Regions from separate parts of the Homo sapiens genome. Here regions 2 and 3 are each linked to region 1. Evidence: fine-mapped expression QTL. A gene starts in region 1. Each other region holds a variant in brackets. All regions are shown on one strand. Distances are from middle to middle.

The links. PIP is the estimated chance that this variant, and not a neighbour inherited with it, causes the effect.
Region 2: its variant is the best candidate, but not a certain one, in a credible set for the expression of UEVLD in monocytes after Pam3CSK4 (Quach 2016, PIP 0.55).
Region 3: its variant is the best candidate, but not a certain one, in a credible set for the expression of UEVLD in blood mononuclear cells (TOPMed, PIP 0.62).

The regions. Positions count from the first base shown.
Region 1 is chr11:18,583,810-18,592,083 of GRCh38, forward strand. It overlaps UEVLD (UEV and lactate/malate dehyrogenase domains), which reads right to left and starts at 4,925. Exons shown (of 12, transcript NM_001040697.4): 1 at 4,804-4,925. The coding sequence starts at 4,845. LOC112268073 (a long non-coding RNA gene) reads right to left here. Exons shown (of 4, transcript XR_002957242.2): 3 at 6,727-7,032; 4 at 6,284-6,471. RefSeq lists enhancers at 3,973-4,082, 4,483-4,632, 4,673-4,732, 4,793-5,087, 4,993-5,042.
Region 2 is chr11:18,459,795-18,467,794 of GRCh38, forward strand. It overlaps LDHAL6A (lactate dehydrogenase A like 6A), which reads left to right. Exons shown (of 7, transcript NM_144972.5): 2 at 4,167-4,284; 3 at 5,843-6,016. Among named protein-coding and RNA genes, the nearest start is that of LDHAL6A, 7.9 kb to the left of the region's middle. The variant CTTTA/C (reference allele first, on the strand shown) is at 4,350.
Region 3 is chr11:18,654,046-18,662,319 of GRCh38, forward strand. No RefSeq gene overlaps it. Among named protein-coding and RNA genes, the nearest start is that of SPTY2D1, 24 kb to the left of the region's middle. The variant A/G (reference allele first, on the strand shown) is at 4,515.

The sequences.
Region 1 (8,274 bases):
CACCACCACACCCGGGTAATTTTGTATTTTTGGTAGAGACGAGGTTTCTCCATGTTGGTCAGGCTGGTCTTGAACTCCTGACCTCAGGTGATCCACCCACCTCAGCCTCCCAAAGTGTTGAGATTACAGGTGTGAGCCACCGCAGTATTACCATTTTATGAGTGAGCAAATCTAGGTTAAGTTGCCTCTCCGAGGTAACTCAGCTGGAGGAGCAGAAAATAGGAATTAGGGAACTAGGTAATTTCTCTAAATGTAACACTTAATATAAACGAAGGAATATACTTATTGGCTGGGCATGGTGGCTCACATCTGTAATCCCAGACTTTTGGACAGTCAAGGACAAAGGATCACTTGAGGCCAGTAGTTTTGAGACCAGCCTGGGCAACACAACAAGACACTGTCTCTACAAAAATAAAAACAAAAATTGGCCAGATGTGGTGATGTTGCCTGTGGTCCTAGCTACCTCCAGAGGCTGAGGCAGGAGGATCACTTGAGCCCAAGAGTTTGAGGCTGCAGTAAGCTATGATGGTACCACTGCACTCCAGCCTGGGAGACGGAGCAAGGCTCTGTCTCTTTAAAAAAAAGAAAAAGCACACGCTTTTTGCAGAATAATAAGTACTGGTGAATTGACCCACCCACTTATGATACAGAACTGTCTGACAAAGCTTTCTGCCATAATGGAAATAATCTACACATACATTGTCCAATATGATAGCCACAAACCACATGTGGCTACTAACAATTGAAATGTGATTAGTGATTTTATTCCTGTTTTTAAAAAATGCTTATTTATATCTTTTGCCCAATTATCTATTTACTTTTTTGTTTGCTTTGTTTTTTTGAGACGGAGTCTTGCTCTGTTGCCCAGGCTGGAGTGCAGTGGCGTGATCTCAGCTCACCACAACCTCCACCTCCCGGGTTCAAGCGATTCTCCTGTCTCAGCCTCCTGAGTAGCTGGGACTACAGGCCCATTGCAGGATGCCCGGCTAATTTTTGTATTTTTAGTAGAGACAGGGTTTCACTATGTTGGCCAGGCTGGTCTTGAATTCCTGACCTCGTGATCTGCATGCCTCAGCCTCCTAATGTGCTGGGATTACAGGTGTGTGCCACCATGCCTGGCCTATTTATTGGTTCTAATATTGATTTGTAGGCATGCTTTATATATTTTAGATACCAATACTTTGTCAGTTATGTGTGCTACAGATAGCTTCTCTAAGTTTGTATCTTGCCTCTTCACTTTCTTTAATTTTCTTTTTAAAAAAATTGAGATAGGGTCTTGCCATATTGTTCAGGCTTGTCTCAAACTCCTGGACTCAACAGATCTGCCTGTCTTGGCCTCCCAAAGTGCTGAGATTACAGGTGTGAGCCACCACACCTGGCTGCCTCTTCACTTTCTTCATGGTGTCTTCTGTTCTTAATTTTAATACAGTTGAATTTGTCTCTTATTTGTGTATTATTTTAAAACGGTTTGCATATTCTGAGCCTATAACATTTATCTTTTTAGGTTTTAAAGTTGTCTTTTACATTTAGGTCTTTAATCCACTGGAAATTTTTATGTTTGGCGTAAGGCAGGGATACAAGGTACAATTTCATTTTTCTCATGTGGATATTCACTTGTCTCTCCATTCTCCTTTCGCCATTTATCTGCAATGTCTTCTGTTTTATATTGCATTTCCAAACATGTGTGACTACGATTCTAAGCCCTTTAGTCTGTTTCACTGGTTAGTCTATTCCACACCAATGCCACACTAAATTTTACTTGCCGTAGTACTGATATTTGGTAGAGCAGGTCCTCAAATCTATCATCTATTCTTTCCTTCTTTATTATTATTATTTTTTTTTTTTTGAGACAGAGTATTGCTCTGTGGCTCAGGCTGGGGTGCAGTGGCGCATTCTCAGCTCACTGCAACCTCTGTCTCCTGGGTTCAAGCGATTCTCCTGCCTCAGCCTCCCAAGTAGCTGGGGTTACAGGTGCCCACCACCATGCCCAGTTTTTACATTTTTTAGGAGAGACGAGGTTTCACCATGTTGGCCAGGCTGCTCTTGAACTCCTGACCTCAAGTGATCCGCCCACCTCGGCCTCCCGAAGTGCTGGGATTAGAGGCGTAAGCCACCACACCCAGCCCTCATATCTATTTTTTTTCCATAATAATGTCAAGGTTATCCTTGGCCTTCTGCTCTTCTGAATGAATTTTAGAATCAGTTTGAAGTTTCCAAGAAATGCATTGACCCTATAGATAAATTTGGAGAGAACTGACAATCTTCACATCTATGAAACTGGGATATCTATTTAATTAGATTTTTTACTTTCTCCATAGTTGCTTAATTTTTTAATGTACTGATCACTTCTCCATCGATTTTTTCTGCAACAAAATTATTTCTAAGTTTTAAAAAATTTTAAATTCATTTTTTTTTATTTTTTTGAGATGGGGTCTCCCTCTGTTGCCCAGGCTGGAGTGCAGTGGCACGATCTTGGGCCACTGTAACCTCCACCTCCCAGGTTCAAGTGATTCTCCTGCTTCAGCCTCCCGAGTAGATGGGATTACAGGAGCGGGCCACCACGCCTGGCTTATTTTTTTGTATTTTTAGTAGAGATGGGGTTTCACCATGTTGGACAGGCCGATCTCGAACTCCTGGCCGCAGGTGATCTACCCGCCTCGGTCTCCCAAAGTGCTGGAATTACAGACGTGAGCTACCGTGCCTGGCCTTACATTTATTTCTACTTTTTAGAGACACGGTCTCGTTCTGTCTCCCAGGCTGGCAAGCAGTGGCACAATCATAGCTCTCTGCATACTCAAACACCAGGGCTCAAGCTATTCTCCTGCCTCAGCCTCTCAAGTAGCGGGGACTACAGGCATGAGTAACTGTGCCTAGACTAAAATTATTTCTAGATATTAAACAATATTATTTGCAGACTGCAGTGAATGGTCAGGAAACTTCATATATTTGCTGCACTGACTTGTTTCTGATTGGTTTCCTTAATTTATACAGCCAACAAATACTTATTAATAATAAGCTACCCCAGCCTGGCCAATATGACGAAACCTCGTCGCTACTAAAAATACAAAAAAAATTAGCCGGGCTTGGTGGTGGGCGCCTGTAGTCCCAGCTACTCAGGATGCTAAGGCAGGAGAATCGCTTGAACCCAGGAGGCGGAGATGGCAGTGAGCAGAGATCGCGCCACTGCACTTCAACCTGGGTGACAGAGCGAGACTCCGTCTCAAAACAAACAGTAATAATAATAATAAGCTACCTATGTGCCAGACTCTATGCTATGCACTGATGGGGAAAAAAAAATCCTCTACTATTCTACTCTCACCCTTGAAAAAACCATTGTCTCTCTTCTTTTCCTTCATTCCAGTGCCACCAAAAATATGCTCTATGTTTGAATCTTAACTTGAACAATTCTTCCCATCGGACAATCCATCATCCTCTGCACATTAAAACTTGAATGGTTCTTTTAATTTCACATGCTCTGAAGAGGAGACAGAAAGGGTAGCATTATGATACTTCTCTTCCTACAAGATCTGCACCTGTCGCAGTAGATAAATTCATTCAAGTCACTTACATAAACAATTTCAATCTTAGGACTTCAAAACCTCCCACGGGTATGTAAACTGCCCCAACAAAGAAAGAGGCAAGTATAACAAAAATGGCATAAACTATGGTTTCTGCATTAGGAAGTCTTAAGAAGCATTAAGAATTATTTAAGGCCGGGTGCGGTGGTTCATACCTGTAATTCCACCACTTTGGGAGGCTCAGGCGAGTGGATCACTTGAGGTCAAGAGTTCGAGACCAGACTGGCCAACATGGTGAAAACCCATCTCTACTAAAATACAAAAATTAGCCAGGCATGGTGGCACGCGCCTGTAGTCCCAGCTACTTGGGAGGCTGAGGCACGAGAATCGGCTTGAACCCGGGAGGTGGAGGTTGCAGTGAGCCTAGATCGCACCACTGCACTCCAGCCTGGGGGACAGAGCAAGACTCTGTCAAAAAAAAAAACACAAAAAACAAAAAACCACCTTAACTAGGAAACTGGTGAAAACTAGTCTTCTTAACTAGAAAATTGGCGGGGATTCCCTCAGATTGTACACCGGAAACTCAGGCTAGTCAGGTCTCAGAAATATAGGTCAGATTTCTAGGTCGGCCCGCCTACTCCCCAGCCTTCCAACATTAAGATCTCTCCAGGGCCTTCAAGCTCTGTCTTCATCTCTAAATCTACTCAGGTCTTTCATTCACTGCACAGTTACTTAGTACCTATGGTGTTGTCAAACATAGTGGCTAGAGGAAGGGAATACAAAAGCACAATGTCTGCAGTCAAAGGGGCTCACAGCAAGATTACGGTTTGTAAATACATAATTACTCCACAATGTGATAATCGATATCTTTCAAAACAGAAGGGTTGATTCAATCTTACAGGGAGTGACTGAGTTGGGTCTTACAAAGGATGAGCTTTGCAATTCAAGAAAAAAGAAAAAAAAGGCAGACCATTTCAGCAGAGAGAAAGAGAGAAAGGCGTGGTTAGGCGTGTGCTGGGAGCTGTTTGAGGTCAGTGAAGCTGGGGGTATGAGGAGGGCTCGCACCAGGTGGAGGTTGGGAAACCTCAGAGTTGCGGGAGAAATCAGAATCCAGGTCCCCTCAGCCTCCCTGGGGCCGCGCCCCATAGCCGGTTTCAGACCAGCCGCCCCGGCTCCAAGCCCCACTACAAGCCGGGAAACGCAAAACGGAGGCAACCTGGCCAAAGGCAGAGGCACCCCCCGCAAGACCCTGAGGACCCAAACTGGCCCAGCGGACTGCCCGCACCTTGCCAAGCAGCCGTCTCAGGCCCTCGCAGTCGAACTCCATCTCCAGGCCGGTCCCGAGCTAGGTCCCAGGACTCCAGCCCCCGGACCTTCTTCCGGACTTGCTGCAGGACGGAAGCCGCTGAGGACCAAACTTCCCGGCGGTCCAAGGCCCCGCCCCTTCCCAGACTGGAAATTCCACCCGCATTCAACGCCCCGGGCTCAGCCGCGGCTGCGCCCGGAATCCGGGGCCTCTCCTTCGTGACCCCGGAGTGGGCAAGTGACGAGGGCACGGCCAGAAACGCATTGGCGTCAAGGAAACCACGACCCATCTTCCTGGAAGGAAACTTGGGGACACTTATGAAGAGAAGACTAGGAAGGACCGGAGTAGAAGCACTAAAGGAGGTAGAGGCAACACGCGGTGTTCTTGAAGAGTTTCCAGACAGATGTATTAAATTCCACAGTGTATCAGGAAAGAGCAAGACCGAAAATTGCAGTTGAATTTAGGAAGGAGGCGGTAATGGAACTTCAGAAGCAAAATTTCAGGGAGTAGAAAGGAAAAACAAAGTCAGGAGGAGCCTTGCCGGAGAAGCGGAGATAGGACAGCCCCAGCATGAGGGTGGCTTAGCACGGGGAGAGTGGTTGCTTTTTTTATTTTTTTTAGGGGTGCCATAACAATGTTGGTGGTCAAAGAGAGGAGAAATCCAGGTGAACAAATAGTTGGAAAACAAGAGAGGAGGGAGATGGGTGGATAAGGTCATCTGGAGAAGGTGGGTGAAGAAGAGATGCAGGATACAGTAATTTTCTGGCGTTGTTTGATCTCCTTGGCCCATGGCTGACTTACCTGCCCTGTATCCCTGGCCTGAGCCACTGAAGCGAAAAGTCCCAGGAGCTGGATATTGTAATTGTCAAGAGGTTGGACATATAGGAGAGAGATTGTATTTATAGGAAGATCTGAAGGGAGTGCTGCCCTGACTCAGGAGAAGAAGCTGAAAAGCTGGAAGGAACATTCATTCAGAAAGTTTTTGTTGAGCATCTACTACTTGCCAGCTATTTTTCCAGGTCTCAGGATACAGCCGTGAACAAAATACACTCAGATAGCTGATGTCTTAAGGGTGTCATTCCTTTATTAGCAGAGAGAGAGCAAAACAATAAATGTAATAAGTAAATTATTCAGCATGTCAGAAGGTTGATTACGTGTTGTGGAGAATAAATTCTGAAAAGGGTAGGGAGATTGGGGTAGGTCTCACTGAGGGGTGAGGGAGTAAGTGTTACGAATCCGAGTGCAGACAAAGCAGTAGCCTAAGGCATGTGCCCAGGGAGGCTCAACACAGCAAGGAGGCCAGTGTGGCTGGAGTAGAATGAAGTAAGATGGGAGTGGAGACAAGGAGGCTAAGTCAGGGAAATAAGACGGGGGAACAAGTGGTTTAGAGAAGTGAGTCTTCTAGTGTGAGCCCCAGATCTGCAGCCTCAGGTGCTGGGAGTTGTTAGAAATGCAGATGCTAAGACCTCAACCCCAGCTTTATTCAATCACAGGCTCTGGGGTTGGGGACCAGCAATTCTCTTTTAACAATTCTTCCAGATGATTCTGATGGGTGATGAAGTCCAAGAACCACTGTGGGACTTTGTAGACAATTGTAAGGACTCTGGCCTGTCCCTGCCCTCCAGCCAGAGACCATCAGGAACACACCTGTGCTTAAACAAGTTGAGTTCATTATTAATAGTTCTTGCAGTGAGGAAGCAGGTGTTGTGGAGGACCATTGGGACAGCTTGGTGAGGGTGAGAGAACCTATTATAGAATTTGGGCGATTTGCGGGAGGGCTCAAGAAAGCCAGGCTTCACCCTGGATTGGGTGCTGTCAGAAAGCAGGGACATTTCTGTGACTAGGTATCTGAATAAGTATTGTCTATAAGATGGACAGACTAGAGTGAGGATAAAGCTATACCTAGTAAAGAAGCAGCAGTCACTCATAATAGCAGAGAAGGACGTTTGGTATTTCATGGCTTGCACAGTGACCTTGCTCTCTTGTCTCTGCTTAGACACAATTTTGAAATGGCCTTGTTGTTGTGTCCCTTTTTTATAGTCTGACTGACCTTGTCTCATGTTGGTGTTCTGTGAGATTATGTCCCACAGAAGAATAACTGGGCCAAGCTGTGAGCATCAGGCCAGCTTCTAACAACCCTGAAGTCTAGCTGTGTCAGACCAGCTCTCAGATGTCAGGGCCTGCCTCTTCCTTTCTCAGGCTTTTAATCTGGGAGAAAGAGAAAGCCACTGGGAGGTTTCGAACAGAACAGTGACATGATCTGACTGAGCTTTAAAAAAATATTAATAACTCTGCAGTGTTGTGAAGAGGCAGTAGTGTCAGGCAAGAGTAGGCCAGAAGACAAGGTAGGAGGAAGATTACAGAGAAAAGCTGATAGAAGGGCTGTTAAGTGCATCTCAGCCAGATCTAACCAACCTTAAAACAGTAGAACTGCCAGGGGCTCCAAATTCTAATAGATCCTGCCAGAAATCCGTGGTATAAGGAAAAGATACCAGTTAGCAGCAAGGCCAGAGCAAGATTCTTCCATCTTTTATGAAAGAGCCTTTTATGAAAGAGGCCTTCCAACCAAACCAATTCTCTTCTGGTCTAGTCACTATGCACACTTTATGCCAGAGAGAGTGTGAGTGAGTGAGTGTGTGTGTGTGTATGTAGCATTTCCTTTGTGGAAGGTATACTGCTAAGAGTTTTATGTGCTTTATCTCCGTTCATCTTCATAAGACCCTATGACCTGGATAGAATTATTACCTCAATTTTACTGATAAGAAAATTGAGGTGTATTGTTATATTACCTATTTTACTTGTTTCTGAGGTTCTGTTGAATAAGAGATGTATTAATGATAGCTTTTGGGGGGAGAAGAAAACTACAAAATTAAACATACATACTGATTTTAACACACCTATTTGAAAAGAATGTAAATGTGAAATAGAGGATATGTATATAATTGTCTCCATTTTACAGATAGGGAAACCAAAGACTAAGGTTAAATTACTGCAGAAGATGATGTCAAAGACTGTCTTCCTAAACTACATGTTATAGTGCCTCTCACTGTGGGTGAAATTGTGATGACACTTTGTGATTAATAATAGTCTAGGAAATCAGCCAGGTGTGGTGGCTCATGCCTGTAATCCCAGCACTTTGGGATGCCCAGGCAGGCGTATCATCTGAGGTCAGGAGTTCGAGACCAGCCTGGCTAACATGGCGAAACCTCATCTCTGCTAAAAATACAAAAATTAGCTGGATGTGGCGGCAGGTGCCTTTCATCCCAGCTCTTTGGGAGGCTGAGGGAGGGAGAATTGCTTGAAGTTGGGAGGCAGAGGTTACAGTGAGCCGAGATCTTGCCACTGTATTCAGCCTGGGCAACAGAGTGAGATTCCATCAAAAAAAAAAAGGTCTACAAAGTCTGAATTATGTGCTTATATTGCTATGCAGTTACAAGAGAAAGGCTGTGT
Region 2 (8,000 bases), 120 kb before region 1:
GGCTATGACAGTTTCTTTAGATTTTTCTTGTTTTTGATGACTGAGCATTCTGAGGAGTACTAGTCAAGTATTTTGTAGAACACCTTTCTCTTGGAATTTGGTGGGGTTTTTTTTGATGGTGAGACCGAGGTTTTGGGTTTTGGGGAGGAAGACATAGGAATAAAGTGCCACTTTTCATCACATCATATCCCGGCTACATACTGTCATGATTTATCAGTGTTGATGTTGACCTCAGTTACCTGGCTGCTTGTAATGCAGCTTAGACTTCTAGGTTGATCAGTTGTACAGTCTAGTTTAAAATGTAAAGCGCTTGGCTTTGAATTTCCAGTAATTCGAATAGAGTAAAAAGATCCAGGCTGGATCCAGGCAGTGGCTCATGCCTGTAATCCTGCACTTTGGGAGACCAAGGCAGTAGTATCACTTGAGCCTAGGAGTTTGAGACCAGCCTAGGCAACAAAGCAAGACCCTGTCTCTAAAATATAAATAAATGAATAAAAATTAAAAATTGGCTAGGTGGCCGGGCACGGTGGCTCACACCTGTAATCCCAGCACTTTGGGAGGCCAAGGCGGGTGGATCACCTGAGGTCAGGAGTTTGAGACCAGCCTGGCTAACATGGTGAAACCCCATCTCTACTAAAAATATAAAAAACTAGCTGGGCACGGTGGCATGCATCTGTAATCCCAGCTACTTGGGAGGCTAAGGCAGGAGAATCGCTTGAACCCGGGAGGCAGAGGTTGCAGTCAGCCAAGATCGCACCATTGCACTCCACCCTGGGCAACAAGAGCAGAAACTCCGTCTCAAAAAAAAAAAAAAAAAATGCCAGGTGCGGTGGTACATGCTAGTAGTACTAGCTACTTGGGAGGCTGAGGCAGGAAGCTTGCCTGAGACCAAGAGATTAATGCTGCAGTGAGCCATGAATGTGCCACTGTACTCCAGCTTGGGTGACAAAGTGAGACCCTGTCTCAAAAAAGAAAAAAGGTAAAAAGCACTAACAATGTGAATTGGATATGTGCTTAAATTATGGATGCTTGGTTATTTCTTTCCTTTTCTTTTTTTTCTGAGAGGGAGTCTCACTCTGTTGCACAGGCTGCAGTGCAATGGTCAATCTGATAGCTCACAGCAACCTCCGCCTCCCGGGTTCAAGTGATTCTCCTGCCTCAGCCTCCCAAGTAGCTGGGATTACAGGCATGTGCCCCCATGCCCAGCTAATTTTTGTATTTTTAGTAGAGACAGGATTTCACGATGTTGGCCAGGCTGGTCTGGAACTCCTGACCCCAGGTGATCCGCCCGCCTTGGCCTCCCAAAGTGCTGGGATTACATGCGTGAGCCACCGCGCCCGGCCTTGGTCATTTACTTGTTTTTTTTTTGAGACAGAATCTCGCTCTGTTGCCCAGGCTGGAGTGCAGTGGCGCGATCATGGCTCACTTCAACCTCTGCCTCCTGGGTTCAAGCGATTCATCTGCCTCAGCTTCCCGAGTAGCTGGGACTACAGGTGCATGCCAACACGCCCGGCTAATTTTTGTATTTTTAGTAGAGACAGGGTTTCACCATATTGGCCAGGTTGGTCTCGAACTCCTGAGCTCATGATCCGCCCACCTTGGCCTCCCAAAGTGCTGGGATTATAGGCGTGAGCCACCATGTCCCACCTTGATCATTTACTTCTAAGCACTAACACAAAGGCGTTATTTTTCCTCCAAGGAAAAATTTATTATGTAATAAAGATAAAAAGAATATGTAGTTAAAAGGTAATACATTTACAAGATTTGAAAGTAAGGCTGGGTGCGGTGGCTCAAGCCTGTAATCCCAGTACTTTGGGAGGCCATGGCAGGCAAATCATGAGGTTAGGAGTTTGAGACCAGCCTGGCCAACATGGTGAAACCCCGTCTCTACTAAAAACACACAAAAAATTAGCCGGGCATGGTGGCAGGCGCCTGTAATCCCAGCTACTCAGGAGGCTGAGGCAGGAAAATCGCTTGAACCCGGGAAGGTGTGGGTTGCAGTGAGCCGAGATAGTGCCACTGCACTCCAGCCTGGGCAACGAGCAAGATTCCGTCTCAAAAAAAAGAAAAAAAAAAAAAAACTAGGCTGGGCATGGGCTCACGCTTGTAACTTTGGTAGGCTGAGGCAGGCGGATCACTTGAGTCCTGGACTTTGAGACCAGCCTGGGCAACATGGTGAAACCCCATGTCTACAAAAAATACAAAAATTAGCCAGATGTGGTGGCAGGCTCCTGTGATGTGGTGGTAGGCGCCTGTTGTCCCAGCTACCCAGAAGGCTGAGGTGGGAGGATCATCTGAGCCTGAGAAAGTTGAGGCTGCAATGAGTCATGATCATGCTACTGTACTCCTACCTGGGGGACAGAGCAAGCCCCTGTCTCAGAAACAAAAAGTAAAAGTAAAATTCAGAAAGATACATACAAGGCCGGGCGCGGATTAAGGCTTGTGCCTGTAATCCCATCACTTTGAGAGACCGGGGCAGGTGGATCACTTGAAGTCAGGAGTTTGAGACCAGCCTGGCCAACATGGTGAAACCCTGTCTCTACTAAAAATACAAAAAAATTGGCCGGGTGCGGTGTCTCATGCCTGTAATCCCAGCACTTTGGGAGGCAGAGGCGGGCGGATCACTAGGTCAGGAGATCAAGACCATCCTGGCTAACACGGTGAAACCCCGTCTCTACTAAAAATACAAAAAATTAGCCAGGTGTGGTGGCGGGCGCCTGTAGTCCCAGCTACTCGGGAGGCTGAGGCAGGAGAATGGCGTGAACCTGGGAGGCGGAGCTTGCAGTGAGCCGAGATCACGCCACTGCACTCCAGCCTGGGCAACAGAGCAAGACTCTGTCTCAAAAAACAAACAAACAAACAAAAAAAAAAACAAAAAAAACCCAAAAATTAGCTGGGCATGGTGGTGCATGCCTGTAATCCCAGCTACTCAGGAAGCTGAGGCAGGAGAATCACTAGAACCCAGGAAGCGGAGGTGGCAGTGAGCCGAGATTGCACCACTGCACTCCAGCCTGGGGAACAGAGCAAGAGACTCCATCTCAAAAAAAAACAAAAACAAAAACAAAAAAACATACATGGAGAAGTCATACTGGTTTCCATCCAATCTTTCCTTAGCATCCACTTTAGGCAATTATTTGAATCAGTTTCTTGTATTTCTAGTGTTTTTTTTTTTTCAAATAGAAGTATATTTTCTCTCCTTTCTTACATATAAAGTAGCATCATAGAAATTATAGTATGAATTGATTTCTGTAGGTAATAACTGTCTGATTATAGAACTAAAATATTTTTGAGTTGGAAGGAGCCCTATATTTTAATCCATTTGCTGTGGTTTGAATGTTTGTCCCCTCTGGAACTCGTTTAAATTTAATCCTCAATGTGGCAGTATTGAGAGGTGGGGCCTTTAAGAGTTGACTGGGTCATGAGGGCTCTGCCATGGATTAATCTATGGATGAATGGGTTATCAGGGGAGTGGGAATGGTAGCTTTATAAGAAGAGGAAGACAGACCTGAATTTAGCAATCGCAGCCTCCTTGCCATGTGATGCCCTGTGCTGCCTTGGGACTCTGCAGAGTCTCCTCCAGCAAGAAAGCCCTCACCATATGGCGGCCCCCTGACCTTGGACTTCTCAGCCTCCATAACTGTAAGAAATAAATTCCTTTTCTTTATAAGGTACTCAGTTTCATGTATTCTGTTATAAGGAACAGAAAATGGACTAAGATACCATTTATTCAAAAAACTTTTACTGAGCTCCTCTGTGCCAGGTGGATGATAAGTAAGCACCAGATGGCTGGGGATGAATGACTTCCTAGTCTCAAGAAGCTCAAGGTCTGGTGAGAAATTCCTTCAGCAGAAGCACTACTTTATCACTGTGCAGCCTCAGCTGAAATTGAAAATCGGGGTGTTCACTACTTTCAGAGATTGTTCTATTTACTAAGCAGTTTCTGTTTTTGTTTTCCTCATGATGAGCTGAAATGCTCCTCTTTGTAATTTGTATTTTTTCTGGTTTAGACTTTTATATCATGACAAAATGATGAGATCATTTATTATGTTTCCTTTGATTTTGATAATTCACAAGCTAGACATAGATCACCAATATAAGAATTTTCTTTCATTCTCCAGTTAATCAAGAGATACACTCACACCCATTGGACTAACAATGTTTTTCAGGGTTTGAGTGATGAACTTGTCCTTGTGGATGTTGATGAAGGCAAACTGAAGGGTGAGACAATGGATCTTCAACATGGCAGCCCTTTTATGAAAATGCCAAATATTGTCTCCAGCAAAGGTTAATGTCATAGTTAAATACTATAAATATTCTAATATACATGAACAAGTATCTAAGAAAATCAT[CTTTA/C]TTTCTTTTGACCTCCCCAGTTTTTATAGATAAGGCTGGTTGCTCCCTACTCTGTACTCTCATAACGTGTTCAGATTCCTTGGGTTGTACTTTGCAAGGTTTCCCACGGCACCAGACTGAGTTCCTTGTGAGCAGCAGTAACAGCAGTTATCATGACAGCTACAATGAACTGACTGCCTATTGTGTGTGAGACATTGACCCAAGCACTTTATATAATTTAATCCTGAGCACAACTCTATTTTAGAGATGATGTACCTCTGAACTAAGGTTAATTAAAAGTGATAGGACCAGGCATGGTGGCTCATGCCTGTAATCCCAGAACTTTGGGAGGCCAAGGCAGGTGGATCACCTGAGGTTGGGAGTTCGAGACCAGCCTGACTAACATACAGAAACCCTGTCTCTATTAAAAACATAAAAATTAGCCGGGCGTGGTGGTGCATGCCTGTAACCCCAGCTACTCAGGAGGCTGAGGCAGGAGAATCGCTTGAACCTGGGAGGTGGAGGTTGTGGTGAGCCAAGATCGTGCCATTGCATTCTAGCCTGGGCAACAAGAGTGAAACTCTGTCTCAAAAAAAAAAAAAAAAGTGATGGAGTAGGGATTTGAACTCAGTTCTGTTTGATTCCAAAGCCTAAGCTCTTCACTACTGTACTTTATTCACTTGGCACCTGGGAGATAATTATTTGAACAAACGAATGAACCAACAATTTGCTATTCAAAGGTCTGTTCACACCACATCTATCTCTAAATATTCTTGCCAGAGTAATCCATATTTTGACCTCTTCATCTAAATAATACAAAAGGTATTTTAGGAGGTGAGGTGTTTTTTTTGTTTTTTTTTGTTTTGTTTTGTTTTGGTTTGTTTTTGAGACAGTGTCTTGCTATGTTGGTGCAGGCTGGACTTGGACTTCTGGGCTCGTGTGTGATCCTCTTGGTCTCAGCCTCCAAGTAACTGGGACTATAGGAGTGCACTACTGTACCCAATTTAGGAGGTTTTTGTTTTTGGAAACGGAGTCTCGCTCTGTCACCCAGGTTGGAGTGTCGTGGTGTGATCTTGGCTCACTGCCTCCATGTTCAAGTGATTCTCCTGCCTCAGTCTCCCTTGTAGCTGGGACTACAGGCATCCGCCACTGTGCCTGGCTAATTTTTGTATTTTTAGTAGAGATGGGGTTTTGCCATGTTGGCCAGTCTGGTCCTGAACTCCTAACCTCATTTGATGGACCCACCTCGACCTCCCAAAGTGCTGGGATTACAGGGGTGAGCCACTGCACATGACTTACGTTTTTTTTTTTTTTTTTATTATTAAAAAAAATGTACAAGGGAAACTTAGTGCTAATTTCCTGAAATTAAAAAGTAGTCTAGGCATACTAGAAGATTTAAGGGAACCCACTCTTTGGTAAACATAGTGTGGTGATTGAAGTGAACAGGAAGTATACTTAAATGCCAGATGTTTTCTTTCATAATCGATTGTTTATTCTAATCTTTCCTCAGATTACCTGGTCACTGCAAACTCCAATCTAGTGATTATCACAGCAGGTGCACGCCAGAAAAAAGGAGAAACACGCCTTGATTTAGTCCAGCGAAATGTATCCATCTTTAAATTAATGATTCCCAATATTACCCAGTACAGTCCTCACTGCAAACTGCTTATTGTTACTAATCCAGGTCAGCTTTGTTGTTTTAAATTTTCAACTTTTAGATTCGGGGGTACACTGTGTAGGTTCATTACATGAGTATACTGTGTGATGCTGAGGTTTGGGGTAGGATTGATCCTGCCACCCAGGTACTGAGCAAAGTACCTAATAGTTTTTCAGCCCTTGCTGCTCTCACTCCCTCCCTCTCTAGTAGTCTCCAGTGTCATTTGTTCCCATCTTTATGTCCATGTGCACCCACATGTTTAGCTCCCACTTATAGTGAGAACATGTATTTGGTTTTCTGTTCCTGCATTAATTAGCTTGGAATAATGATCTCCAGCTGCATCCATGTTGCTGCAAAGGACATGATTTTGTTTTTTATGGCTGCATAGGACAGCTTTATTTTCACTGTTCAGTGAAGGAGTTTTTGGGGGTGGGTTTAGTAACTTTGAGGAGAAAAAGAATTTAATGAATATTAAATCGTAAACCACCAGTATAATTCCAGAATCTCTGTTTTGTTAGTGTAATATGTACTTTGCACAGTGGTAATCAGTGTATATACTATAATGACTTTAAAAAATACTAGTGTGAGGCCAGATGCAGTGGCTGAAGCCTGTAATCCCAGCACTTTGGGAGCCCAAGGTGGGTGAAGTGCTTGAATCCAGGAGTTTGAGAATGGCCTGGGCAACATGACAGAACTCCATCTCTACAAAAAAATACAAAAATTATCAGGGCATGGTGGAGCATTCCTGTAGTCCCAGCTACTCAGGAGGCTGAGGCGGGAGGATTGCTTCAGCCAGGGAGGTCAAGGCTGCAGTGAGCCATGATTGCGCCACTGCACTCCAGCCTGGGTCACAGTGAGACCCTGTCTCAAAAAAAAAAAAAAAAAAAAGTAGTGTGTATGGGAAGATAATATGCTTAATCATATGAGTTCAAGGTTTATATTCTAAAGGCTGAGGTTTGTTTTCCAAATTACTGTTTGAGAAGTGAAAGTAGGGCTATAGTTTACTGCCTGACTCTCCAAAATTGTACTAGACTCCTCACTGGTGCATTTACAAGGTGGACAAACTGAAAATAGACTTCGGAGATAAAATGTGCAGGACTGCTGATAGATTATGTCTAGTGAGAGAAAGGGAGGAATAAAAAATAACTTCGAGAGTTTTTCCTTTGAGTAACTGAAGGGATGGTAGTTCCATTTAACTGGGTTGGTAAATTTACTGATCGGGTGGGAGTCAGTGAGGGAAGGAGGCAGGGATGTTACATATAGAGGGGAAAAATCAAGATACCTGAAATGATACTCAAGAGGAAATGTCAAACAGCTAGAGATTATGAGTCTGGAGCTTAGTAGTTTAGGGATATTCAAATTACTGTATTCTAAAATTATTTGGAGTAGTTTTTCTCTGTGCAGACCAACAGTGAGTGCATGATTAAGTTTATTCATTTTAATTTCGATGCTGAAGAACTATTTAACTTTTGTTTCACAGTTTTATAAAATATTCACATGGCTCCAACATCAATTCTAGAGAACAGGAATTATTCAAAGTGGTCCAGCTTCTGTCCCTGTGCCCTTTCCCCTATAGCCTCCATCCTTTTATAGGTAACCATTTACACTTTTTATGGTTTACAGCTTTTTGTTACTACATACGTTTTTCTCCATCTTCTTTCATTTTTAACTTAATATATCATGAAGCTCAACTCCATAGTAGTATTTATAAATATGTTGATTACTGTAGCTTTGTGGTAAGTTTTGAAATCAGGATGTATTAAGTCTTCTGACTATTCTTTAAGATTATTTTGGGTCAGGCGTGGTGGCTCACACCTGGAATCCCAGCACTTTGGGAGCTGAGCCAGGTGGATCACCTGAGGTGAGGAGTTCAAGACCAGCCTGGCCAACATGGCAAAATCCCATCTTTACTAAAAATACAAAAATTAGCTGGGCATGGTGGTGCACACCTGTAATCCTAGCTACTTGGGAGGCTGAGGCAAGAGAATCGCTTGAACCCAGGAGGCAGAGG
Region 3 (8,274 bases), 70 kb after region 1:
GATCTCTGCTCACTGCAACCTCCACCTACCGGGTTCAAGCGATTCTCCTGCCTCGGCCTCCCAAGTAGCCAGGACTACAGGTGCCCACCACCATGCTTGGCTAATTTTTGTATTTTTAGTAGAGATGGGGTTTCGCCATATCAGGCTGGTCTCAAACTCCTGACTTTGTGATCCACCCACTTCGGCCTCCCAAAGTGCTGGGATTACAGGCGTGAGCTACCACACCCGGCTCCTCCCTTATTTTTAATGAGAGCAAACATTTATTGAGTGTTCAATATGGGTAAACCTTAGAAGGTTCTAAGGACTTTACATTTTAGTTCATTTGATACTTGCAATTTATAGCCATGCGTGGTGGCTCATGCCTGTAATCCCAGCACTTTAGGAGGCTGAGGTGGGTGGATCACCTGAGGTCAGGAGTTCAAGACCAGTCTGGCCAATGTGGCGAGACCCCATCTCTACTAAAAATACAAAAATTAGCTGGGTGTGGTGCAAGACTCCTGTAATCCCACTACTCAGGAGGCTGAGGCAGGAGAATCACTTGAACCCGGGAGGTGGAGGTTGCAGTGAGCTGAGATCACGCCATTGCACTCCAGCCTGGGCGACAAGAGTGAGACTCCATCTCAAAAACAGAAAAACAAACAAAAAAAACCTTGCAATTTTTGAGGCTAGAATTATTTCTCTCTTGATTAAGAAAATCTTAATCTTTCTTGATTAAGAAAATCAAGGTACAGGGATGTTAAGCAACTGGCTCAAAGTCACACAGCCGAAGAGCAAGGATTTGGATCTAGGCAGAGTCTGACTCCAAACCATGCAGCATTAACTACTTTTTATTTTTTTTTAGATGGAGTCTCGCTCTGTCACCCAAGCTGGAGTGCAGTGGCACGATCTTGGCTCACTGTGAGCTCTGCCTCCGGGGTTCACGCCATTCTCCTGCCTCAACCTCCCAAGTAGCTGGGACTACAGGCACCTGCCACCATGCCTGGCTAATTTTTTATATTTGTACTAGAGATGGGGTTTCACCGTGTTAGCCAGGATGGTCTCGATCTCCTGACCTCGTGATCTGCCCGCCTCGGCCTCCCAAAAGGCTGGGATTAGTTGTGAGCCACTGCGCCAGGCAACTGCTAGTTAACTACTATGTTTCAACTTGTATTAACCATGCTTTCTTTTCTTTTTTTTCCCTTTTTTCTTTCTTTTCTTTTTTTTTTTTTTTTGAGGCAGAGTCTTGCTCTGTCACCCAGGCTTGAGTGCAGTGGTGTATAGTCTTAGTTCACTGTAGCCTCAAACTCTCCCAGCTCAGGTGATCCTACCACCTCAGCTTCCCAAGTAGCTGGGACTGCAGGCATGCACCACCATGCCTGGCTAATTTTTGTATTTTTTTTGTAGAGATGGGGTTTCACCATGTTGCCCAGGCTGGTCTTGAACTCCTGAGCTCAAGTGACCCACCTGCCTTGGCCTTCCAAAGTGCTGGGATTACAGATATGAGCCACCACATCCAGCCCCCCTCCCTTTTTTAAAAGAAGAGAAAGCAAAGAAAAAAGGCTTTTAAACCTCAAAGATCCTTATTCTGCTGCCTTCCTAGAATCCGTAGACAGGAATTCAACTATGAACCTGAATTGACTTTAGGGGAATATCTCTCCAGCCTAGAAAGAGAAGCACCTGGAATTTTAAAATAAGAATCATAGACTTTTGGGTTTAAGGATTTTGAGAAAGCCGGGAACGGTAGCTCATGCCTGTAATCCCAGCACTTTGGGCAGATCGCCTGAGGTTAAGAGTTTGAGACCAGCCTGGCCAACATGGTGAAACCCCATCTTCACTAAAAATCCAAAAAAAAAAAGGACTGTGAGAAGCTCTGACATGTGATCACTTGGCTCTGTGCTCAAACAACCCCAAGGATGAAAGTGTCTTTTCTTTTTCTTCACCTAAACCTCCCGATTGCTGGGACTACAGGCATACGCCACCATGCCAGACTAATTTTTTTAATTTTTTTTTTTTGAGATGGAGACTTGCTCTGTCGCCCAGCCTGGAGTGTAGTGGCATGATCTCTGTTCACCACAACCTCTGCCTCCTGAGTTCAAGTGATTCTCCTGCCTCAGCCTCCCGAGTAGCTGGGATGACATGCATGCACCACCATGCCTGGCTAATTTTTTGTATTTTAGTAGAGATGGGGTATCACCATGTTGGACAGGCTGGTCTTGAACTCCTAACCTCGTGATCCTCCCGCCTCGGCCTCCCAAAGTGCTGGGATTACAGGTGTAAACCACCTCACCTGGCCCCCCCACCACCTTTTTTTTTTTTTTTTTTTTTGAGACAGAGTCTCCCTCTGTTGCCCAGGCTGGAGTGCAGTGGTGGGATCTTGGCTCACTGCAACCTCTACCTCCTGGGTTCAAGCTATTCCCCTGCCTCAACCTCCCAAGTAGCTGGGACTACAGGCATCTGCCATCATGCCCGGCCAATTTTTTTTTTTTTTTTTTTTGAGACAGAGTCTTGCTCTGTTGCCCAGGCTGGAGTGCAGTGGCATGATCTCAGCTCACTGCAAGTTCCGCCTCCTGGGTTCACACCATTCTCCTGCCTCAGCCTCCTGAGTAGCTGGGACTACAGGTGCCCGCTACCATGCCTGACTATTTTTTCTATTTTTAGTAGAGACAGGGTTTCACCGTGTTAGCCAGGATGGTCTCGATCTCTTGACCTCGTGATCCACCTGCCTCGGCCTCCCAAAGTGCTGGAGATTACAGGCATGAGCCACCACACCCAGACATGCCTGGCCATTTTTTTTATTTTTAGTAGAGACCGAGTTTCACCATGTTGGCCAGGCTGGTCTTGAACTCCTGACCTCAGGTGATCTGCCAGCTGCTCGGCCTCCCAAAGTACTGGGATTATGGCATGAGACACTGTGCCCAGCCATTTATTTTATTTTATTTTATTTTTTTTGAGACACAGTCTTACTCTGTTGCCCAGGCTGGAGTGCAGTGGCACGATCTTGGCTCACTGCAACCTCTGCCTCCCAGGTTCATGCGATTCTCCTGCCTCAGCCTCCCAAGTAGTTGGGACTATAGGTGCACCCCACTATGCCCGGCTAATTTTTGTAATTTTAGTAGAGGTGGGGTTTCACCATATTCATCAGGCTGGTCTCGAACTGCTGACCTTAGGTGATGTACCTGCCTTGGCCTCTGAAAATGCTGGGATTTACAGGTGTGAGCCATCGTGCCTGGTGTATTTTTTTTATTTTTAGTAGAGATGGGATCTTGCTATGTTGCCCAAACCAATCTCAAACTCCTGGGCTCAAGAGATCCTCCTGCCTCAGCCTCCTGAAGTGCTGGGATTACAGATGTGAGACTACACCTGGCCAAAAGTTTCCTTTTCTCACCACTGAAAAATTCTTACTTCTCTTGGGTCAAAAACCTCCCTCTGCCTCCTTCCATCCTTTCTTTGCTCCAGGAGCTGTGCTCTGAAGCCACCTGCTCTGGCTGTCCCCTCTTCTGTCTTCTGTACTTCCTATACCCTTCCCCATCACCATATAAAGACATCTCCCTGTCTCACTTAGGTCTTCTTGTTACTGGAACGGGTCCCAATCCAGACCCCAAGAGAGGGTTCTTGGACCATGTGCAAGAAAGAATTCAGGGTGAGTCCATAGAGTAAAGTGAAAACAAGTTTATTAAGAAAGTAAAGGAATAAAAGAATGGCTCCTCCTTTGGCAGAACAGTGGCATGGGCTGCTCAGCTGAGTACACTTATAGTTACTTCTTGATTGTATGCTAAACGAGGGATGAATTATTCATGTATTTTCCGGGAAAGGGGCAGGGATTTCCGGGAACCAAGGGTTCCTCCTCTCTTTAGACTATATAGGGTAACTTCCGGATGTTGCCATGGCATTTGTAAACTGTCATGGGTCTGGTGAGAGTGTCTTTTAGCATGCTAATGTATTACAATTTGTGTATAATTAGCAGTGAGAACAACCAGAGGTCACTTTCATCATCATCTTGGTTTTGGCGGGTGTTGGCTGGCTTCTTTATGGCATCCTGTTTTATCAGCAAGGTTTTTGTGACCTGTATCTTGTGCCAACCTCCTATCTCCTCCTGTGACTAAGCATACCTAACACCTGGGAATGCAGCCTAGCCCCTATTCAAGATGGAGTTGCTCTGGTTCAAAATATGTCTCTGACATTCTCATCACTGAAACTACCTTTGTACAAATTATAACTGAGAAAATTATGACAGTGAAAGAGATCTGACCTAACTGACTCTTTCTTGCTTCTAACCTCCAAGCTGTCCATGTTCATTTCTAGGCGTAGGCTGAACTAACTTTGTGAGGAACTTAGTTTATAGGTTAACTTTAAGACAAAGACAATAACAGCCCTTTCCCAAAATAAATCCTCTTCCTGCCAGGTGATTAGACTGCCTTTGCAGGACTAACAAATTAGCCACAAGATTAGAAATTATAGCTTTGGAGTCCAATAGCTGGAGGCTGCAAGATTCTAAACCTCCCCAAATTGCTCCTGGGGGTATTATCTTAGGTTAC[A/G]GTAAAACCTAAGATCAGTGCTTGAGATAGTCTGCAGATCCTGTACTCGATGGATCAGCTGACACCACCCAGATCAATAAAATGGCTCATCAGGTCTTGTGGCCCCCACCCAGGAACTGACTTACTGCAAGAGGACAGCTTCAGCTCTCTATGATTTCATCTCCAACCTGACCAATTAGCATTCGCCACTTCCCGAGCCTCTACCCACCAAATTATTCTTAAAAATTCAGATTGATTGGTTCCAAGATGGCCAAATAGGAACAGCTCCAGTCTACAGCTCCCAGCATGAGCAACGCAGAAGACAGGTGATTTCTGCATTTCCAACTGAGGTACTGGGTTCATCTCACTGGGGCTTGTCAGACAGTGGGTGCAAGACAGTGGGTGCAGCCCACAGACTGTGAGCCGAAGCAGGGCGAGGTGATGCCTCACCCAGGAAGCGCAAGGGGTTGGGGAATTCCCTTTCCTAGCCAAGGGAAGCCATGACAGATGGCACCTGGAAAATCCGGTCACTCCCACCCTAATACCATGTTTTTCCAATGGTCTTAGCAAACGGCACACCAGGAGATTATATCCCGCGCATGGCTCAGAGGGTCCCACGCCCACAGAGCCTTGCTCACTGCTAGCACAGCAGTCTGAGATCGAACTGCAAGGCGGCAGCGAGGCTCGGGGAGGGGCACCCGCCACTGCTGAGGCTTGAGTAGGTAAACGAAGCCACCGGGAAGCTCGAACTGGGTGGAGCCCACTGCAGCTCAAGGAGGCCTGCCTGCCTCTTTAGACTCCACCTCTGGGGGCAGAGCATAGCTGAACAAAAGGCAGCAGAAACTTCTGCAGGCTTAAATGTCCCTGTCTGACAGCTTTGAAGAGAGTAGTGGTTCTCCCAGCACAGAGTTTGAGATCTGAGAATGGACAGACTGCCTCCTCAAGTGGGTAGCCTAACTGGGAGGCACCTCCCAGTAGGGGCCGACTGACACCTCATACGGCCAGGTGCCCCTCTAAGACGAAGCTTCCAGAGGAAGGATCAGGCAGAAATATTTGCAGTTCTGCAGCCTCTGCTGGTGATACCCAGGCAAACAGGGTCTGCTGTGGACCTCCAGCAAACTCCAACAGACCTGCAGCTGAGGGACCTGACTGTTAGAAGGAAAACTAACAAACAGAAAGGACATTCACACCAAAATCCCATCTGTACGTCACCATCATCAAAAACCAAAGGTAGATAAAACCGCAAAGATGGGGAGAAACCAGAGCAGAAAAGCTGAAAATTCTAAACATCAGAATGCCTCTTCTCCTCCAAAGGAATGCAGCTCCTCGCCAGGAATGGAACAAAGCTGGACAGAGAATGACTTTGACAAGTTGAGAGAAGAAGGCTTCAGAAGATCGGTAATAATAAACTTCTCTGAGCTAAAAGAGGATGTTCCAACCCATTGCAAAGAAACTAAAAACCTTGAAAAAAGATTGGATGAATGGCTAACTAGAATAAACAGCATAGAGAAGACCTTAAATGACCTGATGGAGCTGAAAACCATGGCACGAGAACTATCTGATGCATGCACAAGCTTTAGTAGCCGATTCGATCAAATGGAAGAAGGGGTATCAGTGATTGAAAATCAAATGAATGAAATGAAGCGAGAAGAGAAGTTTAGAGAAAAAAGAGTAAAAAGAAATGAACAAAGCCACCAAGAAATATGGGACTATGTGAAAAGACCAAATCTACATCTGATTGGTGTACCTGAAAGTGACAGGGAGAATGGAACCAAGTTGGAAAACACTCCTCAGGATATTATCCAGGAGAACTTCCCCAACCTAGCAAGGCAGGCCAACATTCAAATTCAGAAATACAGAGAACGCCACAAAGACACTCCTTGAGAAGAGCAACTCCAAGACACATAATTGTCAGATTCACCAAAGTTGAAATGCAGGAAAAAATGTTAAGGGCAGCCAGAGAGAAAGGTCGGGTTACCCACAAAGGGAAGCCCATCAGACTAACAGCTGATCTCTCAGCAGAAACTCTACAAGCCAGAAGAGAGTGGGGGCCACTATTCAACATTCTTAAAGAAAAGAATTTTCAACCCAGAATTTCATACCCAGCCAAAAGAAGCTTCATAAGTGAAGGAGAGATAAAATCCTTCACAGACAAGCAAATGCTGAGAGATTTTGTCATCACCAGGCCTGCCTTACAAGAGCTCCTGAAGGAAGCACTAAACATGGAAAGGAACAACTGGTACCAGCCACTGCAAAAACATGCCAAATTGTAAAGACCATCGAGGCTAGGAAGAAACTGCATCAACTAACCAGCAAAATACCCAGCTGACATCATAATGACAGGATCAAATTCACACATAACAATATTAACCTTAAATGTAAATGGGCTAAATGCTCCAATTAAAAGATATAGACTGGCAAATTGGATAAAGAGTCAAGATCCATCAGTGTGCTGTATTCAGGAGACCCATCTCACGTGCAGAGACACACATAGGCTCAAAATAAAGGGATGGAGGAAGATCTACCAAGCAAATGGAAAACAAAAAAAAGCAGGGGTTGCAATCCTAGTCTCTGATAAAACAGACTTTAAACCAACAAAGATCAGAAGAGACAAAGAAGGCCATTACATAATGGTAAAGGGATCAATTCAACAAGAAGAGCTAACTACCCTAAATATATATGCACCCAATACAGGAGCACCCAGATTCATAAAGCAAGTCCTTAGAGACCTACAAAGAGACTTAGACTCCCACACAATAATAATGGGAGACTTTAACACCCCACTGTCAACATTAGACAGATCCACGAGACAGAAAGTTAACAAGGATATCCAGGAATTGAACTCAGCTCTGTACCAAGCGGACCTAATAGACATCTACAGAACTCTCCACCCCAAATCAACAGAATATACATTCTTCTTAGCACCACGTTGCACTTATTCCAAAATTGACCACATAGTTGGAAGTAAAGCACTCCTCAGCAAATGTAAAAGAACAGAAATCATAACAAACTGTCTCTCAGACCACACTGCAATCAAATTAGAACTCAGGATTAAGAAACTCACTCAAAAGTGCTCAATTACATGGAAACTGAACAACCTGCTCCTGAATGACTACTGGGTACTTAACGAAATGAAGGCAGAAATAAAGATGTTCTTTGAAACCAAGGAGAACAAAGACACAACATACCAGAATCTCTGGGACACATTTAAAGCAGTGTGTAGAGGGAAATTTATAGCACTAAATGCCCACAAGAGAAAGCAGGAAAGATCTAAAATTGACACCCTAACTTCACAATTAAAAGAACTAGAGAAGCAAGAGCAAACACATTCAAAAGCTAGCAGAAGGCGAGAAATAACTAAGATCAGAGCAGAACTGAAGGAGATAGAGACACAAAAAACCCTTCAAAAAAATCAATGAATCCAGGAGCTGGTTTTTTGAAAAGATCAACAAAATTGATAGACTGCTAGCAAGACTAATAAAGAAGAAAAGAGAGAAGAATCAATTAGACACATAAAAAATGATAAAGGGGATATCACCACTGATGCCACAGAGATAAAAACTACCATCAGAGAATACTATAAACACCTCTACACAAATAAACTAGAAAATCTAGAAGAAATGGATAAATTTCTGGACATATACACCCTCCCAAGACTAAACGAGGAAGAAGTTGAATCCCTGAATAGGCCAATAACAGGCTCTGAAATTGAGGCAATAATTAAGAGCCCACCCACCAAAAAAAGTCCAGGATCAGGCAGATTCACAGCCGAATTCTACCA